3 separate regions of the Homo sapiens genome follow, and all the other regions are linked to region 2. The links come from fine-mapping of genetic effects on gene expression. A gene starts in region 2. Each other region holds a variant in brackets. All regions are shown on one strand. Distances are from middle to middle.

Region 1 (7,740 bases), 54 kb before region 2:
GAGATGGGCTTAAGAGTATGTTCAGGTGTGTGTCTGATGGGGCAAAAGCACACAAATCAGAGCAAAAGAGAATGAGTCTCAAATCCTGTATGAGCAGCATTGCTCTGTGTATTTATTCCTATTGACTAAGGTTGTTTGTGCTACCGGCACTAATGCAGCCAGCATCACCGGTCAGCCAGCATGTGACTTCTCCAAGATTCCCTTTACCACCCACCGCTGACCTTGGTGCTTAATTTCTCATGCTTCCTCTGTGTTCCCAGGCTCAACAAGGGGCATGGTCTGCTCTTGCAGATTAGTATTCTGCCGGCGAACAGAACTTCGTGTTGGGAACTGCCTCATTGGTGGTGTGAGTTTCACATACTGCTGCACGCGTGTCGATTAACGTTCTGCTGTCCAAGAGAATGTCATGCTGGGAACGCCATCATCGGTGGTGTTAGCTTCACATGCTTCTGCAGCTGAGCTTGCAGAATAGAGAAAAATGAGCTCATAATTTGCTTTGAGAGCTACAGGAAATGGTTGTTTCTCCTATACTTTGTCCTTAACATCTTTCTTGATCCTAAATATATATCTCGTAACAAGATGTCTTTGTTTACACCTCTTTAAAATTTGATATGTGTCTGTGTCAAGACACTAGAAAGCAACTGCCAGAATCCTACATGAATATTTTGGAACAAATTAAAGTTTCAAAATCTAGAATTTTTAAGGAGGAGCCATGGCTTCAGACACAAACTGAAACGAAGGCACAAATGATGCCACTGATCTCACCATCCACTGCTCTGTCTTTTCATTCTGCCTCATTTTGAATGGATTCACTCTCAAAGACAACTCTCATATACTAGGCAAAAGAATCAACGTCAGCTTCCAGTTTAGCTACTCACAACCTCACTACTTCTCGGGAAAAACCACCATCCTCTGCGTCAAAATATTGGAGTTTTATTGAACATGTCCAGGTCACACATTTGCCTTTTAAGACATAGGGTTATAGGAGATCCACTGAAACAACTTTAATTAAGAGGGAAATGGGTTGTTAGCAAAGGCGGGGTGCATGGAACACAAAACACAGCAGCCCACAATGGGATGTCCTCATTAAGAGCACCCTTCAGCCACGTCTATGAAGACCTGGATTTCACACCCATAAAGTCGTCTTCACACCCAGAAAACGCACACACACAAATGCTCCACTACACTTTGCAACGCGCACTCTCTTGGGTTGCCTTAAAGCTGCTGAGAACCTGATTCTGCTGGGAAAATACAGCTTCACCAGAAACCTTACATTCCTGTTGTTGCTGCAGGCTGCGGCTCTGATAACCACAACATCCTGCACATCAGTGAGTGAGCAAGAAACCAGGTCTAGGGAAAGGGAATGAACCAGGAGCGCTCTCTGAGATGCTCAGAGCATTTCCCGGAAAGGCCACAGCGTCCCCTGCTGTCCTACCTTCAACTGCAGCCTCCCCATCAGGCACAGCACACGTGGGGTCTGTACCTTCCTGAGCTTGTCTTCCTCCTCCCCTCCAAGAGAACAGGGTCACTGCCTAACCCGGGTGTCCCTGAGGGCCAGGCTGACATCTTGCTGGGGTGTGATGTGACCTCTCTTCCTGTCTCTCCTCTCTGTCCCTACCCTAGAAACCCACTGTACCTTTAACAATAGTTGAGGATGTCTTGTCAACGGCCTATGAGGACATGATCACAAAGCTCCAGGGACAAGTCCAGCTTGGCCCACAGATTTCTTATATTTTGGATCTAGCAGTTCCAGTTTATGAATCCACTACACATGCTTGGAAAAATACCTTCTCTGTTCAAGCCATGGCTCCTCTTATCTGGAGGGTCATTCATAGAATGCCCCCACAACTTCCAAGAGTGACAGAGAAACTACAGTTTGCAAATAAAGGGACAGTGATTCTAGTAGGATTATTCCCCATTCTTGACCAAAACAATCTGATGGGCCAAGACACAGCTGTGACCACCAACACCAACCACCCACAATGCCCAGAGCCCAGGAGAAGGAAGCAGGTGTTCTCCACATCTACCCATGCAGATTCTGAGCAGGTCTCAGCCCCAGACTGAGGCTCTGCCTGTCTGAAGAGGCAGCTCAGGGGTCCAGGCACCCCACTGAGACACTTCACAGCTGGGGAACCCAATACAGGTCCCAGGGAAGACACAGTGGGTCTGTGATTGACAAAGAAATGGTCCAAGGTCTTCCCCTTGTATTGAAGGTGAAGGTGACATTTTGGGTTTCAGGATGTGAAAGGGGGACAGTCTTCCTTGGGTTCCTGTAACCGCCACTGACTTGAAGTCACGCGGTTCTTGCTGTAACTCTGCATATTGCTCCTAACCGTCCACTGAGTCCGGCTGACTCCATCACGCGGTTTCTGCACTTCCCAGAAGTCCACCTGGCTTGCGCCCTAGATCCTGGGGTCTCTGCTAGAACTTCCCTTTGTCACTGAGGACTTTGCTGATTTCTTAATTTCAAATTGCAACTAGTTCCCCCTGGTGACCTCTATCCCCCTCTTCTCTTTATTTTTAACTGTAGAATTGTAAGCTATCTCACATCTGTGCATTTCATTTACTCTCTGGAACATTTGTCTCCCAACACTGGGAGGGAAGCTGCATGTTTTCCTCATCATCTTACCACAGTGCATAGATGACCACCTAATACGTTGCACATGATCAATAAATTAATTTCAACTAAATTAATTAATTGTACTCAAAATTTATATTGACACAAAATTGAACCCCAGGCTGGAAAACTGTGGCATGTTGAGGCAATGTGCTAGAGGGGCAAAACCCCAAATGCCACCTGACTGGATCCAAGCCAGGAAACCCGATCCTTAGATATTGAATGGGACCCATGGCACTAAAGCTTAAACACCAGCAACCCCCACAATCAGAGGCAGGTGGCCTTCCCCATGACCAGGCATGAATACAAACCAGCTAATGATGCCTCAGCACAAACTCAGTCTGTGGCCGGAAAGGTTGGAGCCTCACATGCAGAGAAAGCATTCAAACACGTTCATGGGCTTAGGGATACTTCTGTGCTCCAAAGTATGTGAGTTTACGAAAAAAATACTGAAGCCTACAGAGGTAAAGCAGCCCGTGTGTCTAGTCCATGTGACAACATTCCTTAAAAAAGACTAATTAAAACTAATTAAAAAGACTAAAATATAGGAGACTATGATGGGTAAAATGTGGTTTAATGAAGCATTAGGACTTTTGGAAGTAGGAAAAGACCATTCTGTCATGGAATGCCAAGGATAGATTTCATGGTGAATCTTAAACTGAAACATAAAGATGTTTAAACTTTCAATAGAATAAAAGAATGATTAAAGCAGAAAATTAGGTAGAGAATGTAGAATCAGGGCAAGAGCTATGCAGGAGGAGGTCAACCTCCATTGAATTAAGAGGAATTGCTGTTGCAACACAGAAGGATGGAGTAGAATTCAGGTTGATGTGCTGAGAAGCATCCATCAATCCAAAGGAAAGGGCCAGACGAGGAAGGAGCCTCCCTGCTCCTCTGTGTGGATAGACACACTGGGAGCACCACATGTGGCTTCTGCTACTGCAGTCTAGGGTGGGCTATGACAGCTGCAAACTCTGGGGACAGAGAATGCAGGGAGAGGTGTGAGGGTCTCCAAACAACCAGGGCAAGTTGCTCAGCCTCAAGTGAGACCCAGAAACGTTCATGTGGATGCACTCTATGTTTACTGATGACATACAAGACATTTTCTACCTTGAATCACTTGAGTGGTAGAACAATAAAGAGTAAGTCAGATGCCTCATCCCTATAAATGTAATTACTCAAGGGGATAGCAGCCTTGTCTCTGTGGGAAGACAGGAGCCTATCTCCTAATAAATTAGCAAACAAAGATTGCCCAATCACACTGCTCAACTTCCCCACCAACAACCACCAGAACTTTTCCACTAGCTTAACCCAGGGCCTACATATTCCTGCCTTGGGCTTC[A/C]GGACAGTTGAGTTCAACGGCTCACCCTATTGCAGCGTTTTGACTCTTATTTCAACAGTGTTCAATAAATACTTCCTTGACATTTCTTAAAAGCCTTCTGATTTTTTTTTAATAAAAGACAGCCATTTTTTTCTCTTCTGTTTCTCTGTTTGAGAACTTGAACTCTTCTTACAAGCAGAACCAGAATGGAAGACATCAGACAACTACCTATTCTCTTTTCTAAACCTATGTATTTTTCCCTTTTGCTGCTCAAAGCCACTCAACTCACTCAGAAACTTAAGATTACGGGAAACGGTCTTTCACTGTAATGTTACCTGGCCGGTCACCCTCCCAGCCTCTCAGTGCTTTGTCCGCCTGGATGACAGTGACCCCACTCCCTCTTTGTCCCAGCCCTCCAACCCATGGCCACCCACTAGCTCCTGCCACCACCTGGAATTCCTCCATTTCTGAACATCAACTATGAAGCTCCCCATCCCTGACTCACCCGCTGTCCTTCCAGCCTCTAATGTAGCCGTCCCTCCTTCCCTGCTGATCAGCATCAATAAGGCTGTTCTCCCGGGGGCTGTGCATGGGAATCACCAGGGAGCCTGATACCCAAGCTGCTCTTGGGACACCTGTCATCTGCCCTCAAGCTGCATTGGGACACTTGTCATCTGCTCTCATCTCCTGTCCTTGTGCACGGCACTGTCTTTGCCTCAGGCTCTCCGAGTTTGGTATTTTTGATCTTTTTCAGGCATCTTAGTGGAGTCTTGGAGTAAAACATTAGAAATCAGGTCAAGCTGAGTCACCATTTTTTTTTAAGAGGCAGGGGGCTTGCTATGTTGCTCAAGCTGGTCTCAAACTCCTGGCCTTAAGCAATTCTTCCTCCTCAGCCTCCCAAAGTGCTAGGATTACAAGCTGAGCTACCTTGTCCAGCCCTGAGTCAACATTTTCACTCCCATACCAAGGAATTCTGGCTTTAGGAAATGCTTGGTCCAAGGACTCAAAGCATGAGTTACTTTGTCGTCTTTACCTTTTTTCCCCTTTGTTTCTCTTGATCTTACTTTGGGATCTCTCCCCAGGTGACAGCCATGTCATTCATGGTCATCTCTCTGTGCCCTTCGCAGCTAATCTCCTAGAGAAAATCCCTACTTCTTTCCCTGTTGTTTCAGCCAACTCCTGAGTCCTATGGCCTCTTCTGAGTCTGTTACTGAGGGCAGAGGTTGAGACCCCACCTGGCTCCCACACCACCCCTGCTCCCAGCGGGAAGAATTTAAACTAGGAATGGGTGAGAGGGTTCTTCGGTCACTCCAAACAGTCCACAATCTCATGCTCCCACCATCATGGGCTCTTTGTGACACTTTGGGAATAAGGTAAGAGGATTCAGTCCTACTTCGCCAATATTTTGGAGAAGCAGAAGTTTACACACGCAGAAATGCACAAGTCCAACTTCTCGCCAAGACTGTGACAATGCCCTCTGTTCATCTACTGCTGTGTGGAAAGATATCCCAAACATAGTGGACTGAAACAGCACCATCAGGTCTTCACTCATACCTTGGCAATTTGGGCCTGGCTCAGAGGAGAGGTTCTGCTGGGATCTGAGGAGCTCAGGGCTGAGACACTCGCGCACAGGTGGCAGGCAGTGCTGGCTCAGCTGGGAGCTCTCACAGGGCTGAGGGATGGGACCTTGTGATGCGCTGGGGCCAGATCATGCCGGCTCATGAGAAAGGTGGTTTGTGTGACATTTTTTAAACGGTCCAGAGCTGGGAGGATTCTAACCACAGAAATTTACAAACACTGTAAATCAGAGTTTTGGTTTTTCCCAGAAAGCTGGCTGTTCTGTGTTCTCTAGCTCACCCTCGCAGGTGCCCTCAGTTCATCTTCCTGTGCGAGGCTGAGGCTTCCTCAAAACACGGTGTCTGGGCCCCCAAGTGACCAGCCCTCTTAGTCCGTTTGAGCCACTATTTAAAAAAAAATACCATAAACTGAGTTGCTTATGAACAACAGATATATTTTTCAGTGTTCTAGAGGTTGAGAAGTCCAAATCAAGGTGGCAGCAGATTTGGTGTCTGCTGAGAACCAGCTTTTTCGTTCATAGATGGCACCTCCTCACTGTGTCCTCACCTGATGGAAGGAATGAAGGAGCTCCTTGGGATCTCTTCTATAAGGACACTAATCCTATTCATGAGGTGCCCTCCGGACCTACTCACCTCCCCAGAGGCACCACCTGTTAATGCTATCACCTGGTGGTTTAATATTTCAATATATGAATTTCAGAGGGACAAAAATATTCCAACTGCAGCGCCATCCAAGACGGTGAAAGTGAAAAATACCAGTGTCTTAGCACCTGGGCCCAGCAAACGGCATGGTACTAAGTCAGGTGCATTCTATTGGTGAAGATGTCACCCGACCTAGATCCAACAGGAAAGAAGTAAACCTCCCTTTCTGTGGGAGAAGAGTCCAAGAATTGGGACCACATTTTAAAACAGCCCAAGAGAGTTATTCTTTCATAGTCATTTGTAAAAATTGCTGCAGGCAACAACACCAGACACATAGACAGCATGTGAGAGGCGGCTGGGAAAGGCAGACAAAGGGCAGGGGACTTGGAGCTCCTGCCTGTCCCAGCTGGATCTGCAGGCCCGGGAGTTGCTGTGTGGCACAGGCAGCACCAGGACCCTCCCTGCAGGGAGGTGGACAAAAGGCTGAGGGGAGGGACAGGGCGGTGCACTCTCAGGGGCTGGGAGATGGACAGTTCTCAGAGCTCACCCCCACGCAGCCCCCGCTCTACCCCACGCTAACACACACACTCTGTTCCAAAACTGCCCTTCCACACTGGGTCAAAACCATGTCCCAGGGCCCTGCCCAAGGTCCACACTCACTGTGTCTGCTGGGGTCACCAGACAGCCTCAGAGAGTGTGGGAATATCCTTGCTGCTGCTGAAGGCCTTTCTCCTCTCACACCCACACCTGCACCCCCACCTGTAGCTTCCCCAGGATATTTACCCCAGCTTGAGGGTGTCAAGGCTCTTGTTGAGTGTCTGAAAGCTGAACTGCATGTGTATGAAGGAACAGTTTCAGTTGTGTCTACACTCAGAGTTGACACTGGTGGCAAGTCCAGGACACTGTGCTGGGGGCAGGGTGGGTGGGGGTGGAAGTGAAAGTGTTGCAAAGACTTTTACATGTAGCACCATTTTTTGCTTAAACCACTGATTTCTGCCAAGGTTCTGGTGCAGCCCAGAAAGAAAGGTGAAAGGGACCACGAGATACAGACTCACTCTGTTCTAATTGGGGTTTGGGAGCCACCTGGGGGAGACAGAGGCAAGGCCCAGGTGAGACCTCAGCACAGACTGAGAACCTGACCTGCCCTGGCTGTCGAGTCCCCACCACAGACTGGGAAGGAGGCAGGGACAGGAGCATTGCCACCCAGGAGAAAGAGCAGAGGCCCCCAGACTCAGGTCCTCAGCCCCGCAGCCAGCACAAGGGGGAACGACATCATGACACTAGGTTAGAGACGGGGCAGGCCAGCCTTCCAGGGCCAGCAGCTACCGCTGACACGGAACCAGCAGCAGTGTATTCTGTGCCCCCTGAACTAATGTTGTAATATGTACACTTTGGGGTGCAGAAGAAAGCAATGTGTTTGCTGAACAGCACTTTACAGCGCTCCCATTTGAAGTCCCTCTTGGGTCAACTCCTGTTTAAGGGCAGGAGGGCCACCTGCTGTCCTTAAGGTGCTACTGCAGTGCTGCGCGCCCAGTTCTCTGTAAGGGCAGGTTCTTCTTTACTGGAAGATAGTGTGGGCTCTG
Region 2 (7,740 bases):
GTTCCTGTCTCATTTCTTCCCCCTTCCCCATATTGTGTGAGACCCTAATGGCTCCTCAGCCCCTTCCTGGGTCTTCCCAAGTCCAAGCTGACGCCCTCTCCATGCATCCTCGACACCTCCATATTAGACTAGTTCTATAATGGCAACAGGCTCATGTAATTCCTCTTCCAAAGTCTCCCTATTGCCTAAGAAGAAAACCAAAGCTGCTCAATAAGACACTCAGAAGCCTAAATGTGCACCCTCCACACACACACAAGCCTAAATGCACGCACACACCACAGCGTAAATACACACACAAACACGCAAGCCAAAATGCACACATACACACACACACGCAAGCCTAAATGCACGTACACACACACAAGCCAAAATGCACACACACACAAATCTAAATGCACACACACAAAAGCCTAAATGGACACACACACAAACACACAAGCCAAAATGCAAACACACAAAAGCCTAAATACACGCACACACAAGCCTAAATGCACGTACATGCACACACACACGCCTAAATGCACACACACAAATCTAAATGCACACACACAAACACACAATCCCAAATACAGGCAGACACACACACAAGCCTAAATGCACACACGGAAAAGCCTAAATGTGCACCACACGCACACAAAGATATGAGCCTAAATGCAAACCACACATAAGCCTTAATGCACCACACACACACGCATGCATCTCCTATATAGGCCTTGGTCCCTGCTCTCCTGAGATGTCCGTGGTCCTCCCACCACACTTTCATCTACTTGGCCCCCATCTGCTCTACAACCTCATCCCGGGTGTCATTTCCTCCATTAGACTGTCATTCATCACAGGTGGGTCAGTAGCCTCATCCCTGGGCTGTCAAAGGCTTGTGCACTTTCTGCCACCACAGCCCCCATCAGTCTCCTTAGTCAGCGCCCACCCACAAAGGCCACACTTTGGTCAATTGTGAGTGATGAAGCCAGGACTCTGGCCAGTCTCACTGCAATATTTATGTGAAAGTAGATGCTGCATTCTGCTTGTATGTGGTTTCTCCTGGGCACATGGCACAGGACCTGGCCTCCTTATCATCTCGCCCGGGCTCCCATGCCTTCCGAGCTGGCTACCACGCCTCACTCCTCAAGAGCGCCCAGGAGTGAGCTCTGCTCTCCAGCATCACCCTGTTGATGGACGTGAGCGGAACAGGGTGATGCCCTGGACACTGGGACTAAAATGACCTTCTTCTAGCACCCTCACAGGATGCTTGAAATCCTGAAAATGTAACCTTAAAAAGCAAAGTGTTTCTTCTCAAAAGAAGACATGTATGCAGCCAAGAGACACATGAAAAAATGCTCATCATCCCTGGCCATCAGAGGAATGCAAATCAAAACCACAATGAGATACCATCTCCCACCAGTTAGAATGGCGATCATTAAAAAGTCAGGAAACAGCAGGTGCTGGAGAGGATGTGAGGAAATAGGAACACTTTTACACTGTTGGTGGGACTGTAAACTAGTTCAACCATTGTGGAAGTCGGTGTGGCGATTCCTCAGGGATCTAGAACTAGAAATGCCATTTGACCCAGCCATCCCATTACTGGGTATATACCCAAAGGACTATAAATCATGCTGCTATAAAGACACATGCACACGTATGTTACTGCAGCACTTTCACAATTGCAAAGACTTGGAACCAACCCAAATGTCCATCAATGATAGACTGGATTAAGAAAAATGTGACACATATACACCATGGACTACTATGCAGCCATGAAAAAGGATGAGCTCATGTCCTTTGCAGCAACATGGATGAAGCTGGAAACCACCATTCTGAGCAAACTATCACAAGGACAAAAAACCAAACACCGCATGTTCTCACTCATAGGTGTGAATTGAACAATGAGAACACATGGACATAGGGTGGGTAACATCACACACCGGGGCCTGTTGTGGGGTAGGGGGAGGGGAGACAGATAGCATTAGGAGAAATACCTAATGTAAATGATGAGCTAATGGGTGCAGCAAACCAACACAGCACATGTATAAATATGTAACAAACCTGTACGTTGTGCACATGTACCCTAGAACTTCAAGTATAATAAAAAAATAAATAAAATAAATAAAAAATAAAAATAAAATTTAGAAAAAAAGTTTTCCAGGTTCAGAGCAGAAAACATCAGTCCTGAAAATCAGGATTCCAGGGTTTAGATTCCTTTCACTCCCAGGATCTACAGACACCATCGGACCTCACATGGTGCCCGGCAGCATTCTGAGATTTTTTACTTTATTATCTTGTAAACCCCCAAAATTTGAGACAGGTCTCATTTAATTTAAAAAGTTTATTTTGCCAAGGTTGAGGATGTACCTCTGACATAGCCTCAGGAAATCCTAACAACATGTGCTCCAGGTGGTCAAGGCACAGCTTGCTTTTATACATTTTAGGGAGACATGAGACATCAATCAATGTATAAGAAGTACAATAGTTCTGTCCAGAAAGGCAGAGACAGCTCAAAGCAAGGCCCCCACCACTGGGGGCTTCCAGGTCACAGGTATGTGAGAGACAGACAGTTGCATTCTTTTTATTGTATTTTTGAGACGGAGTGCGGTTTTGTCACCCAGGTTGAAGTGCAGTGGTGCGATCTCGGCTCACTACAACCAATGTGTCCTGGTTTCAAGCAATTCTCCGGCCTCCGCCTTTTGAGTAGGTGGGATTACAGGTGTGTGCCACCACACCCAGCTAATTTTTGTATTTTTAGTAAGGACGGGGCTTCACCATGTTGGCCAGGCTGGTCTCGAACTCCTAACCTCAGGCGATCTGCCCGCCTCGGCCTCCCAGAGTGTTAGGATTACAGACGTGAGCCACTGCGCCCTGACCGGTTGCATTCTTTTGAATTTATTATAAGTCTTTCCAAAAAAGTTAATCGAAATACGCATGTATCTCTGGGAGCAAAAAGATGACTTGAATAGAAAAAGAGGCAGATTCGCAATAAGCAGTTCCCAGCTTGAAGGTGCCTGAGATATTTTTCTTTCACAATCTTATTGAACCCACACCTGGTGTAATAACCTGGAAGCCTCCCCAGGAGGCGGTCAGCACAGAGGCTAGGGAATGAGGCTTTCCAGGCCATTACACCAGTTTTCCATTTACCAGCAGGGTGACCTTGGGCAATTTGTTTCAATTCTCTGAACCCCAGTGTTTTTCTTCTCTAACATGAGGATTATATTGCCTGGTCAAAGAATCATAGTGTGGCTTCAATAAGACAGAAGGAAAGGGACAGAAACAGATCCGATAGAATACTGTAGCTAGCTCATTGAGGCAGTTCACAGACGGTGTTTGGGAGGAACTTGGAAGAGGCTGAGCCATGTCTTACCCAGCACCAGCAAGGAAAGCTGTGTTTCGGTTCTTTCTTTTCTCTTTCCACAATCTCACTGCTCCTAGGTCAGGCATGGCTCAGCCTCTTCCAAGTTTTCTCCCAAACACCCTTTGTGAACTGCCTCAATGAGCTAGCTACAGGATCCCACTGCATCTTTCTGTCTCCTTCTTTCTGTCTCTCTGAATCTATTTCTCTCTATCTCTCTCTCTCTCTCTATTTCCATCTCTCTCTGTCTGTTTCTATCTCTCTGTTTCTCTGTGTCTCTCTACTGTCTCTCTGCATGTCTCTGTCTCTTCCTCTGTCTCTGTTTTTGTTTGTCCATCTTTCTGGATCTCTCTCTGTCTTTCTCTGGCAGGGTTGAAGTGGGAGTATACGGCAGGTTCATGTTTGGGTGCAGAATGGCATTCTGCCAGCGGTAGAGTGGCTGAGGGTCACTCCACTCTGGGTGTCTCATGCCATGTGGCTGCAGTATGGGGTTCTCATTGGACCACCGTGACAGTGTAGGGTGGATGTCATTCCTGGAAACTGAGCCTCAAGCTGGGTTCTCCAGCAATGCCACCACCCCCCACCAACCCTGATATCCTCCGAATAAACTCTTCCCTTCCTTGGTCAGCGAGAGCCAGCGTCTGCTGCTTGCAAATAAGCCACTGAGACATCAGGAAAGCTGCTCACAGAATTACAATGAAAATCAGTAATAAATAAAATGTTTCTTAAATCTTTAGAATCAAGGAAAACCTGAGGGATACTTGGAGAGTCGCTAACAGCACCCCAATCTGGCAGTTGTAGCTCTGCAGGGTGGGCCCAGGCTGGCCCAGACCCTCACCCTCCAAGGGCCACACTGGGGGCTCACTTTCTGAGGAGTGCCCTTTGGAAACGTCCCAGGAACACGTCTAGTGGGAAAAGAGAAAAGTTGGTCCATCGAGGAGAGTGTTCTGCATAAGGGGAGAGATGAGAAGGTAGCCTTGGCCAGAGGAAGAAACTTCATTACAACCAGCTCTCCTTCTGCAAGGGAAGAGGGTGAAGTTTGAGTTTGTCTTGCAGGAAGACAATCAAACTAAAGAGGCCAACACCAGCTTAGAGCCGAGCGGCCCCCTGCTCAGAGCTTCCCTGTGGCTCTCCTCCATGTGATCCAGAAGGAGGGACTCCAGTGTGAACTGCCTGTTCCAGAAACCCCATCAGAACTGCCTAACCTAGAAAACCAAACAGGAGGAGCTGGCACCAGGGCTCCAGGCTGAAAGCTAAATCCAGCGGCAGCCAGATGGAGACAATGTGCCATGTGACTGCTGACTGCTCAGGGCAAATGACACCAGGGGTTAGCGATTAGAAGTTCACCCTTGACTGTGGCACCTCCCTTCAGTTCCGTCGACGAGGTTGTGCAATCCACCAGTCTTATAAATACAGTGACGCTCCAGCCTCTGGAAGCCTCTGTCAGCTCAGCCTCCAAAGGAGCCAGCGTCTCCCCAGTTCCTGAAATCCTGGGTGTTGCCTGCCAGTCGCCATGAGAACTTCCTACCTTCTGCTGTTTACTCTCTGCTTACTTTTGTCTGAGATGGCCTCAGGTAAGCTCTGGTACCTGCAAGAGTTTCCCATCCCCAGGGCTGGGGACAATGGGGCTGATGTGAGTCTCGGATGGCTGCCTCCGTGTCCCAAGGGACGAGGAACAAGCAGCAGGAAAGCATCCCGTGGTTGAGTGGCCTGCAGTTGGCAGAAGGCAGCAGGCAAGCCCTGCCAAGCCTTCAGGGTCTGTGAGCCGCCAAGGAGTGAGCCTGGCAGGGTCATGGCGCTTGTCACAGGCAGCTGCCTGCATCCTTGTCCTGGACATGTAGACAGTATCCTATGTGGATGAGATTGCTGCTTCCCCTGCAAGACGACTCCTCACACTGAGAGGCCAGCTTCCTATGCAGAGAGAGGGGCCGGCCCCATCCTCAGCCCACGTCACTGGGTGCAGCCTCCTGGGGTGCCCTGGTACAGGTGAGGTGCTGCCGCCCCACCCATCAGGCCAGCTCAGCCGGTGCCTTGGACTCACCTCCTGTGCAGGCAGGCGGTCCTCTCCCTCTCCTGAGAAATGCATCCACATTCTCCAGGTTAGCAGTCTCCCCAGTCAATAGGAGGGGGCTTCCTGTGAGCCAGGTGTATGTCAGCTTCTCTGGGCCAAAGCAGCCATGACCCTGACATGATGGTGGGACGTGCAGGAGGAATCGGGAACATGTTTTATCCCAGCCCTATCCTTGTTCACACGAGTCACATGGTGCTAAGCCTTGGTTTATTCATCTGCAGAATGAGGGGCTGGGAAGGATGATCCTGAAAGCAAGCACTCCAGTTCAGAAAGTCTCTGTAAGATCCTATTGTAAGTTTCTCTAGGCCATCACTGTATCCAGCAGATAGGCTTAATTTATTCCAATTATGCCTCAGTTTTTCCATCTGAAAGCTGAGTACAAAAGCATTCTAAATGCAGAACTTTTCATGCTGCCAGTTGCTACAATGGATTTTGTTTTTTTGTTTTTTTTTTTGGTTTTTGGTTTTTGGTTTTTGTTTTTGCTTTGCTTTTTTTTTGAGACAGGGTCTCACTCTGTCACCCAGGCTAAAGTGCAGTGGTGTGATCTCGCCTCACTGCAGCCTCTGCCTCCTGAGCTCAGGCCATCCTCCCACCTCAGCCTCCCAAGAAACTGTGACTACAGGCATGCACCACCACACCTGGCTAATTTTTTTATTTTTATTTTTTCGTAGAGATAAGGTCTTACTGTGTTGACCAGGCTGGTCTCAAACTCCTGGGCACAAGCAACCCTCCTAGTTCAGACTCCCAAAGTTCTGGGATTATAGGCATGAGCCACTCCACTCAGCCTACCGTGTTTTTTTGTTTTGTTTTGTTTTGTTTTTTTGAGATGGAGTCTTGCTCTGTCACCCAGGCTGGAGTGCAATGGCACAATCTCAGCTCACTGCAACCTCCACCTCCTGGGTTCAAGCAATTCTCCTGCCTCAGCCTCCTGAGTTAGCTGGGATTACAGGTGCATGCCACCAAGCCTGGCTAATTTTTGTATTTTTTAGTACAGACGGGGTTTCACCATGCTGGTCATGCTGGTCTTTAACTCCTGACCTCATGGTCCGCCTGCCTCCGCCTCCCAAAGTGCTGGGATTACAGCCATGAGCCACCACGCCCAGCCCATGTTTTTTTAAAGGAATAGAAAATATTACTTCATGCCATGTAGTAAAAGTAGATGCTATTTAATTACACCCATATTTCAGTTTGGGGTGTGTGCATATGTTTTTACTGAGTAGCAGTGAGAAATTTCTTTCTGATGGTGGTTCAGTCCAAACTCAAAAGGGTTTGAAAGGCACTTTGTTAACATAAAGAATTTTTGTTTTCAGTCTATTATATCTAAATTGAATTATGAGAAGCTATTCTCGAGCCTTCCCAGTCACAACTCCCTCCTACCCCCAAGAATAATCACTCACTTGACTTTTATGGTGGTAACTTTTCATATTCTTTACACTTTTGCCACACTAATTAATATTCAGGTTGAATAGTACAGCTTGGTTTGTGCACACATTTCTATTGGCCAGTAGGTGCCCTTATGCCTCTATTTCTACATGCTGAAAAGTTGCATCACCGGATCATAGGCTATGCATATATTCAATTGTATTGGACAATGCCAAACTGTTTTCCAAGATTATTTACACCAACTTGCACTCCCACAAGCAGTGAATAAGAGTTCCTCTTGCTCTGTATCCTTGCCAACATTTGATAACATCAATTATTTTTAAATTTTAACCACCTGGTGAGTGTAGCAATAGCTCACTGGAGTTTTAATCTGCATTTCCCTGATAAATAATAAGTTGGGCCCTTTTATACATAGTTACAGGCAACTGGGTTATTTTTTGTAAAATACCTGTTTGTCTTTTGTCCATGTTTTCTTTTGGATTATCTGTCTTTTCTTATTGGTTTGTAGTTCTTTATGTATTTTCTATGCAAGCCTTTTGTCAATTATATACATCACAAATATCTTCTCTTGCTTTGTGTTTTGATTTTTCACTCTCTTAATGGAAACTTTCCTAGAAAAGAGGCTTTTATCATGATTTCAATGTAGTCGAATGTGTCATGTCTTTTTCCGTAAGGTTACTGCACTTTCTATCTTGTTTAAGAAGACTTTCTTTACATCAAAGACATGAAGATAGTCCCCAATATTGTCTTCTAAAAGCTTATCCTTTTTCTTTTTACATTTAGACTTACAATCCATCTGGCAATGGGGTGTGTGTGTGTGTGTGTGTGTGTGTGTGTGTGTGTGTGTGTGTGGCTTCGGTATGAAGTAACGGTCAAGTTACTTTTTTTCCCCAATATGAATATCTGATTGTCCAGAACCAACTTTTTTTTTTTTTGAGACTGAGTCTCG
Region 3 (7,740 bases), 22 kb after region 2:
GTAGGAACAAATTAGCTACACAGTTAGATATCATGATTTAGGGACCATGCAGCCTCTGGCTACAAGAGTCTGGACCTCTCCCAATTGCTCCTGGGAATAACGTCACTATAGTAAAACCTAAGATCAGTGCTTGAAGTATTTTGCAGATCCTATATTCCGGTGCAGCAGATGACACCACCCAGACTGAAAATCTGGCTCAACCAGTTCTGTGATCCCACCCAGGAACAGAAGTCAGCAAAAACTCACTTTGACCCCCTGTCATTTCATCTTCAACCTGACCAGTCAGCACTCCCCACTTTCTGAGTCCATACCTGCTAAATTATCCTTAAAATCTCTGATCCCAAACGCCAGGGAGACTGATTTCAGTAACAACAAAACTCCAGTCTTTGCATGAATTACTTCTTCTCCATTGCAATTCCCCTGTCTTGATAAGTTGGCTCTGTCTAGGCAGCAGGCAGGGTGAACCCATTGGGTAGTTACAGGACAACATGTCAACTAAATGATCTAAGTCCAGCCGCTTTCACAGTGACCCTAGCAGAAACTAACAGATCCTTGAATGCAAGCAGCAGGTGTTTAGACCACCCACCCCGACAGAAACCTCAGCTCTCAGCCCCTCCCTCCCTGCTCCTCCCTGTCCACCTCAGAATAATAGACTCCACACAGTCAGCAATGTCCAGACAAGAGCTGAGCTCAAGTTAGCCTAGTCTAAGGATGCCCTCCAGGCTTGCAAAGAGAAAGAGGACATGATGTGTATTTGGGCTCCACACTGGCAGAGGAGTGGGACATTGCAGGTCCGCAAAGGCTGATGACATCACAAAGACAGAGAGGGCCAAATTTACTAAAAACACAAAGGCCAGTGGGAACGAATTCAAAAGAGAACCTGGGCCGGGCGCGGTGGCTCACGCCTGTGACCCCAGCACTTTGGGAGACCGAGGAGGGAGAATCACTTGAGGTCCGGAGTTTGAGACCAGCCTGGCCAACATAGTGAAACCTTGACTCTACTACAAATACAAAAATTAGCTGGGCATGGTGGTGGGCACCTGTATGCCAGCTACTCAGGAAGCTGAGGTAGGATAATTGCTTCAACCCAGGAGAAAGAGGTTGTGGTGAGTCGGGATCCCGTCATTGTACTCCAGCCTGGGTAACAGAGTGAGATTCCGTCTAAAAAAAAAAAAAAACCAACCAACCAAACAAACAAACGAAAAAACAGAACCTGAAAAGTCTTAATTTGAATGAAGAAATTTGGAGAAATATAATATTGAAAACTAGATGCAATTAGTTAAAATGTTCCAGCATGTAAGGAAAAAGTAATCAAGTCATTTGACAAGGAAAAAAGAGGAGAGAAAATAAAAGGAAAGAGAAGAAAAGAGAAAAGAAAGCAAAGAAAGAGATGGAAGGAAAAACAGAAAGAAAAAGAAGGAAGGAGAAAGAAAGAGGGAAGAAAGAAGGGAGCCAGGAAAAGAAAGAAAAAAGTATGAAGGAAAAAAGAAAAGCTTGAATTTTAGTCTGATCTTTTTGACACTGATTATTCTTTTCTTTTTCTATAGGCATCATCATGATTGGGTATTTGCCAGAACAAAGAAAACAATCACAGAGGACCATAAAAGTCCTTTAAGCTACAGAGTCATAAATCCTGAATTACGAATTCCCCCTGGGCAACCAAGCAACAGAACCACTGACATCCCAGGTCCTGAGGGCTGACCTCTCAGATTACTAAAACTATACCTCTGCATGGAGCATCCTTAACTTTTCCTGCTGTCCTCTTGAACGGCAACTTTTAAAGTTAAGCTCTTAACAAATTTGAATTCTAAATCTGTTCAACAAAATTAAATCATTCCTGTGTTTTTCTGTGAATCTCTTAAAACCCTTTCCTTTTCCTTCTTGCCAGTGAACAGCCCTGTTACCAACTAAATGAGAAAAGACTCTGAAGATGGACATGACGCAGGAGATTGCCGTGCTGTCCATCTGTCCATCTGTAGCTATAGGGGCCCCTCATCCACCCACCGCCCCCACCAGGGAACCTTCACAGGGCACTGTTAAGAGAAAACCACCTCCTTCGCCACTCTTTTTTACACGACATTTTTAAATGAAGTAGTCCTACGTCTCAGATTCCACATTACTTCACCCTACAATTTTGGGTGAGCATCTGCAATTTTTTTTTTTTTTGAGACAGAGTCTTGCTCTATCACCAGGCTAGGGTGCAGTGGCATGATCTCGGCTCACTGTAATCTCTGCCTCCTAGGTTCAAGCGATTCTTCTGCCTCAGCCTCCCAAGTAGCTGGGACTACAGGTGCGCACCACCACACCCAGCTAACTTTTGTATTTTTAGTACAGACCGGGTTTCACCATATTGGCCAGGATGGTCTTCATCTCCTGACCCTGTGATCCGCCCACCTCAGCCTCCCAAAATGCTGGGATTACAGGCATGAGCCACCGCGTCTGGCCTTGCATTTCATTTTTTAATGCAAAACCCACGGGCTTCAGGCACCCGCTCTTTACAGAAAGTTTGGTGGAAGAAGAGCTGGTTTCTGCAGGGTCCAAATCTTCGCTTTCTCAAGGCCGCCTTCTAGTGGCCAGTAAGGGTAGCCTGGGTAATCTGGGCTCCAGGTCTCTTCCCTGGGGCTCCAAGTCAAATCCCTGAATGACTGATTTTCCATTATTTAATTTTCCAAAAAAACAACTCTCTGAATACATTTTTCCCAATGACCTATTGTCCCGCAACTTTAAATTGTGCCTAAGACAAGTCACCAGATTCTTTTAACCTCCAGAGCAAAGAAGGACCAGGGTGAAACAGGGCTGAATGAGGGAGGGGGAAGGGGTGCTGGAGATGGGGAAGGAGGGGAGTAGGGCAGTCCCTGGGATGAAGGTGGAATGGGAGGGGTAGAGGCAGGCACCACAGCAAGATCAGAGGTGGGAATAGCACGGGACCCAGGCAGGCATGAACCTGCCAAAATGCAGATCGCAAACTTCATCTCAGGACAACCTCACACACCTCTATCTATAAAACTGGGCATTTATATTTATTTATATTTTGGAAATGGAGACTCACTCTGTCACCCAGGCTGGAGTGCAGTGGCATGATCTCAGCTCACTGCAACCTCCGCCTTCCAGGTTCAAGCAATTCTCCTGTTTCAGCCTCCCAAGGAGCTGGGATTACAGGTGTGCACCACTGCACTCAGCTAATTTTTGTGTTTTTAGTAGAGATGGGATTTCACTATGTTGGCCAGGCTGGTCTCGAACCCCTCAACTCAAGTGATCTGCCCACCTCGGCCTCCCAAAGTGCTGGGATTATAGGCGTGAGCCACTGCGCCTGGCCAACACTGAGCATTTTTGATGCACCTGGAT[G/T]TGAAATATGAAACAGATATTTGTGACAAATCACAGAAACAAAACTGATATGGTGAAGACACAGAGAAGCTGAGGACTTTGAAAATTCTTACGTCCAGCACACCGGTCATTTGATTAGTCCACTTTTAGCAAATTCACCATTGGGCAGAAGATATGCTTCCAGTGGGGAGGGTTGCAGTGAACTGGCTTTCTGTCATTTCTGCATTCAGACGTACTTACATTTTGTAAAATATATTTGTAAGAATATCTTCCTCCAGTTTTGAACTGGCTTTCACTTCCATTATAGTGTCTTTAGCATAAAAAGGAAGTTCTTGATTTTAACGGAGTAGAACATATCAGACTTTTTCCCATCAGTTCGTAGTTTTCATGACTTCAGAAAAATTCTTTCCTCAGACAGGCGCAGTGGCTCACTTCTGTAATCCCAACACTCTGGGAGGCCGAGGCAGGTGGATCACCTGAGGTCAGGAATTCAAGGCCCGTCTGACCAATACAGTAAAACCCCATCTCCACTAAAAATATAAAATTAGCCGGGCGTGGTGGCTCATGCCTGTAATCCCAGCTACTTGGGAGGCTGAGGCAGGAGAATCGCTTGATTCTGGGAGGCAGAGGTTGCGGTGACCCAAGATTGCACCATTGCACTCCAGCCTGGGCAACAAGAGAGAAATTCCATCTCACCAAAAAAATAAATAAATAAATAAATTCTTTCCTACTTGAGGTAATCATGATCGCACACTACTTTACTCAAATTAACTTAAATTTCTGCCTTCACAAACAAATCCTAAATCCATCTGGGCTTATTTTTCTCTGTGATTTTTATTTTCCTTGTATATGTATTCATAATTTTTCTATTATAAAAAATGGATGCTATTGTAATTGAAAATGAAAAAATTCCAACAAATCAATTATGTCGTAATAGTTGCATAAGTCTTCTGAATATTAGTACAAAACAATGTATTTTTGCCTCAAAGTTTTTTGCATTATTTTCAAGGTTTTGAAAAGTGAGATAGAGATTTTTTAAATTGTAGTGTCAGGAAGTAAAACATCACCAGCTTTCCACAAACATGTGTTAAGTGTCTAGTATATCCCAGGAAGTGAACTCCACCGAATGTCAAGGACGTGAAGGATTTAAAATATTTTTAAAAATTGCTTTCCTTAAAGAATTCACCTGCTAATGTGAGCTGTCACATTCCAAAGGTAATTACAAATTGTAATATGATACAGAACATACAAAGATAAAGACGTTATCAATGTCTTTCGCAAGCACGGGGAATGTAACTGTCACAAAGTGGGAAAGACCTAGAGGATCAGAGAAGGCGTTCTTTAACTGACTGGGAGTCAGGCCTGTTGGACAAGGGAAAAGTAGGGATCAGCAAACAGTCCAGGAGCTGAGGCATGAGCAAGAACAGTTTGATGGTGCCTCATTGGAAAGTGTTAGCAAGAGAGCTGATGGCTGAGTTGAGCTAAGATTAAATAATCTGTGCAGCATGACCTTGCACAATTTAACAATGTTGGGCCTTTTCCTGTAGGTGAGAGCTGTTCAAATGCTCTGCAACATGCTTCACCTGCGTGGGCAAATGAGAACAAAAGCCCCACTGGTGCCAAAGGGGCTACCTGCTGGATGTTCAAAATACCTTCAAAGCCGCATCTTATCAGGCAAAGGCATGTGTCCCTTCCATTCTATTCCATTCCATTGCATTGCAAGGTAATCATTTTTGAATCCTGAGAGGAAAAACAATGCTCCAGGAAGGTAGACCATGTTTGCCTGTTGCTGTCAAAGCTCCAGCAGACAGCTCCTGACCTTTGGTGGGGGCACAGCCTGGGAGATGAGGAGCCTCAGAAAACTTTGGGTCCTTGAAGAGGTGACACAGTCAGACATGAAATTCAGATACATTATGCTATGGCATGAATTGTGTCCCCAGGAAAAGAGACATTCAAGTCCTAACTCCAGCCACTCAGAGTGTGACTTTATTTGGCAATAGGGTCTTTGCATAGATAATCAACCTGTAATGGAGTCATTTGGGAGGCCCTAATCCAATAGGACCGGTGTCCTTATATAAAGGAGAAATTGGACCCAGAGAGAGGGGCATACAGAGAGAGGACGACGTGAAGACATACAGGGCCGTGTGACTGGACATGATGCCTCTACAAGCCAGGGAAGGCAGGGATTGCCAGCCATTAACAGAAGCTGGAAGAGGCAAGATGGGATCCTCTCTCAGCATTGTGAGATGGAGCATGGCCCGGCCAACACCAGATTTCAGACTTGTGACCTCCAGAACAATGTGAGGCAGTACAATTTTGTGGTTTTGAGCCACCCAGTTTCTCATACTTTGTTACAGCAGCCCGAGGACACTAATCCTAGAGGGATCCCTTTAATAGCTGGGTGGAGTACAGATGTGAGGTCCAAAGGCAATTCTGGAGGTGGGGAGCCCATGTGGGAGCCTCTTGTATTGATCCTGGGAGAAACAATGGAAGCCAGACCTAAGATACTAAGAACAGAGAGGAGGACAAAGATTCGAGAAACATTTAGGAGGTAAAAACAGGCAAGGTAAACTTGCTTCGGTGAGTTGTGTGAGGTCAAAGACAAAGACGGCCTCGAAGATCTCCTCCTGCAGTCTGGAAGTCCCATAGGACCAAGAGCAGTTTTCAAGGTGGCGGGAAAAGGTGAAGCCTGCAGTATAGATATGAAGCCCCTGCAGCTCTTAGAGATTCCCGCACATCCAAAATCCCAGGTGTCTGTACTGATCGCCTTTTGCTGCAAGAACAAACGTCCCCAAATCTCAGATTCTGGAAGTCACAAACATTCATGTCGCCATTCACAGTTGGCTCTGTGGCCTCTGCAGCCGGCTCTGGACTGGGCTCAGGGCTGCTCTGTGTGTGGCCCTGTCGGGGACAAATGCTCAGTGAACAGGGGCTGCCTATGACACGCTCTCCCCATGGGAGCTGAGGGCTGAAGGCTGTGGGCTGAGACACATGCTGCCCTTTCTGGAACAGGCACGCAGCCACTGCTTCCTGCTGGTGGACACAAGGCACACTGTCAGGCCCTGTGTCGGCGGGTCAGGGAGTACAGTTTACCTGCTGAGAGCCACTGCCAAGCCACGGCTGAGGGAAGGCATGTTGGAGCAGTGGATTCGCCGTATCTCTTGTTGTCTGAATTCTCATGCCTTGATATCTGGGGACTTGCCCCCTCAGAGTCAGCCAATTCTTAGAGATAGTAGGCAACTCTCCCAGGAGCACCCCTTTCAAATGCAAACCAACCAATCAAAAGTCCACACCCCCAGTTGCCCTCTTCGGGAGGCTCTCATGCTCTGGTCTCTATCCACCAGCCCTTATCTACCCTGGGCCAGGTACCAGACGACTAGGGACACCCTCTGTGCCCCAGAACTGCTGAAATTATTCATACTAGCAAATCCCAAACCTGCTTGCCCTGTCTTCTCATTTCTTCCCATGGAAATCACAAGAAAGGCTCTCGCCCACAGTTCCTTTTGTCTCCATCTACTTCCTAACCCCAGGCTTCCCCATGTGGCCCCCCTGCTCTGTGTGCCCCTCCTGCGATCTGTGGGTCTAACAAACTCCCTTTTCAATGGCACCGTGTCCTGATCCGTTGGCCTCACTGTATTTCTGGTGCTATATTTTAAAGCCAGCAAAACTCTGATTCTATCACAGCATCCTAAAATTTCATATCCTCTTGACACACCAAAAACTCAAATCTAGGAGATGACAGAAGCCTCATTGAACCCAGGTGCCGTATCTGCAGAATGGAAAATTCAGCAGAAGTATCTAGGGCCTACAAAAGGAAAATATATCTTGGGGTCCCCCAACAAATCACTAAGCTAAAGGGAAAGGTCCGGCTGGGAACTGCTTAGGGACAACCTGCCTCCCATTCTATTCAGTCACCCCTCTGCTCACTGAGATGAATACATATCTGATTGCCTCCTTTGGAGAGGCTCATCAGAAATTCAAAAGAATGCAACCATTTGCATTCTTGGAAGCCCTTCCTATCATTTGGAAGCCCCTCCCTGCTTTGTCTTCTCGCCTTTGCTTCAAGTTGTTCTGCCTTTCCAGACCGGACCGATGTTCATCTTGCACATGTTGATTGATGTCTCCTGTCTCCCTAGATTGTGTAAAACCAAACTGTGTTCTGAAGACCTTGGGCACATGTCCTCAGGATCTCCTGAGGCGGTTTCACAGGCACACAACCCCAACTTTGACAAAATAAACTTTCTAAATTAACTGAGACCTGTCTCAGATTTTGGGGGTTCACAGGCCAGATGGAGCATTCCAAACTCACTGCTGTTTCTAGACCAAGGAGTGCAAGGAAGACATTTGAGGCTAAGCAGGGAGTTGATGGACTCCCTGCGGTCAAGTCCTGAAAGCTTTGTCTGAAGGTTGTAGAAA

The links. PIP is the estimated chance that this variant, and not a neighbour inherited with it, causes the effect.
Region 1: its variant is fine-mapped to the expression of DEFB1 in lung (TOPMed, PIP above 0.99).
Region 3: its variant is fine-mapped to the expression of DEFB1 in lung (TOPMed, PIP 0.96).

Annotation. Positions count from the first base shown.
Region 1 is chr8:6,928,662-6,936,401 of GRCh38, reverse strand. DEFA4 (defensin alpha 4) reads left to right here. Exons shown (of 3, transcript NM_001925.3): 3 at 261-582. The coding sequence ends at 382. Among named protein-coding and RNA genes, the nearest start is that of DEFA4, 5.8 kb to the left of the region's middle. The variant A/C (reference allele first, on the strand shown) is at 3,960.
Region 2 is chr8:6,874,968-6,882,707 of GRCh38, reverse strand. DEFB1 (defensin beta 1) reads left to right here and starts at 4,772. Exons shown (of 2, transcript NM_005218.4): 1 at 4,772-4,911. The coding sequence starts at 4,851.
Region 3 is chr8:6,853,141-6,860,880 of GRCh38, reverse strand. No RefSeq gene overlaps it. Among named protein-coding and RNA genes, the nearest start is that of DEFB1, 21 kb to the left of the region's middle. The variant G/T (reference allele first, on the strand shown) is at 3,346.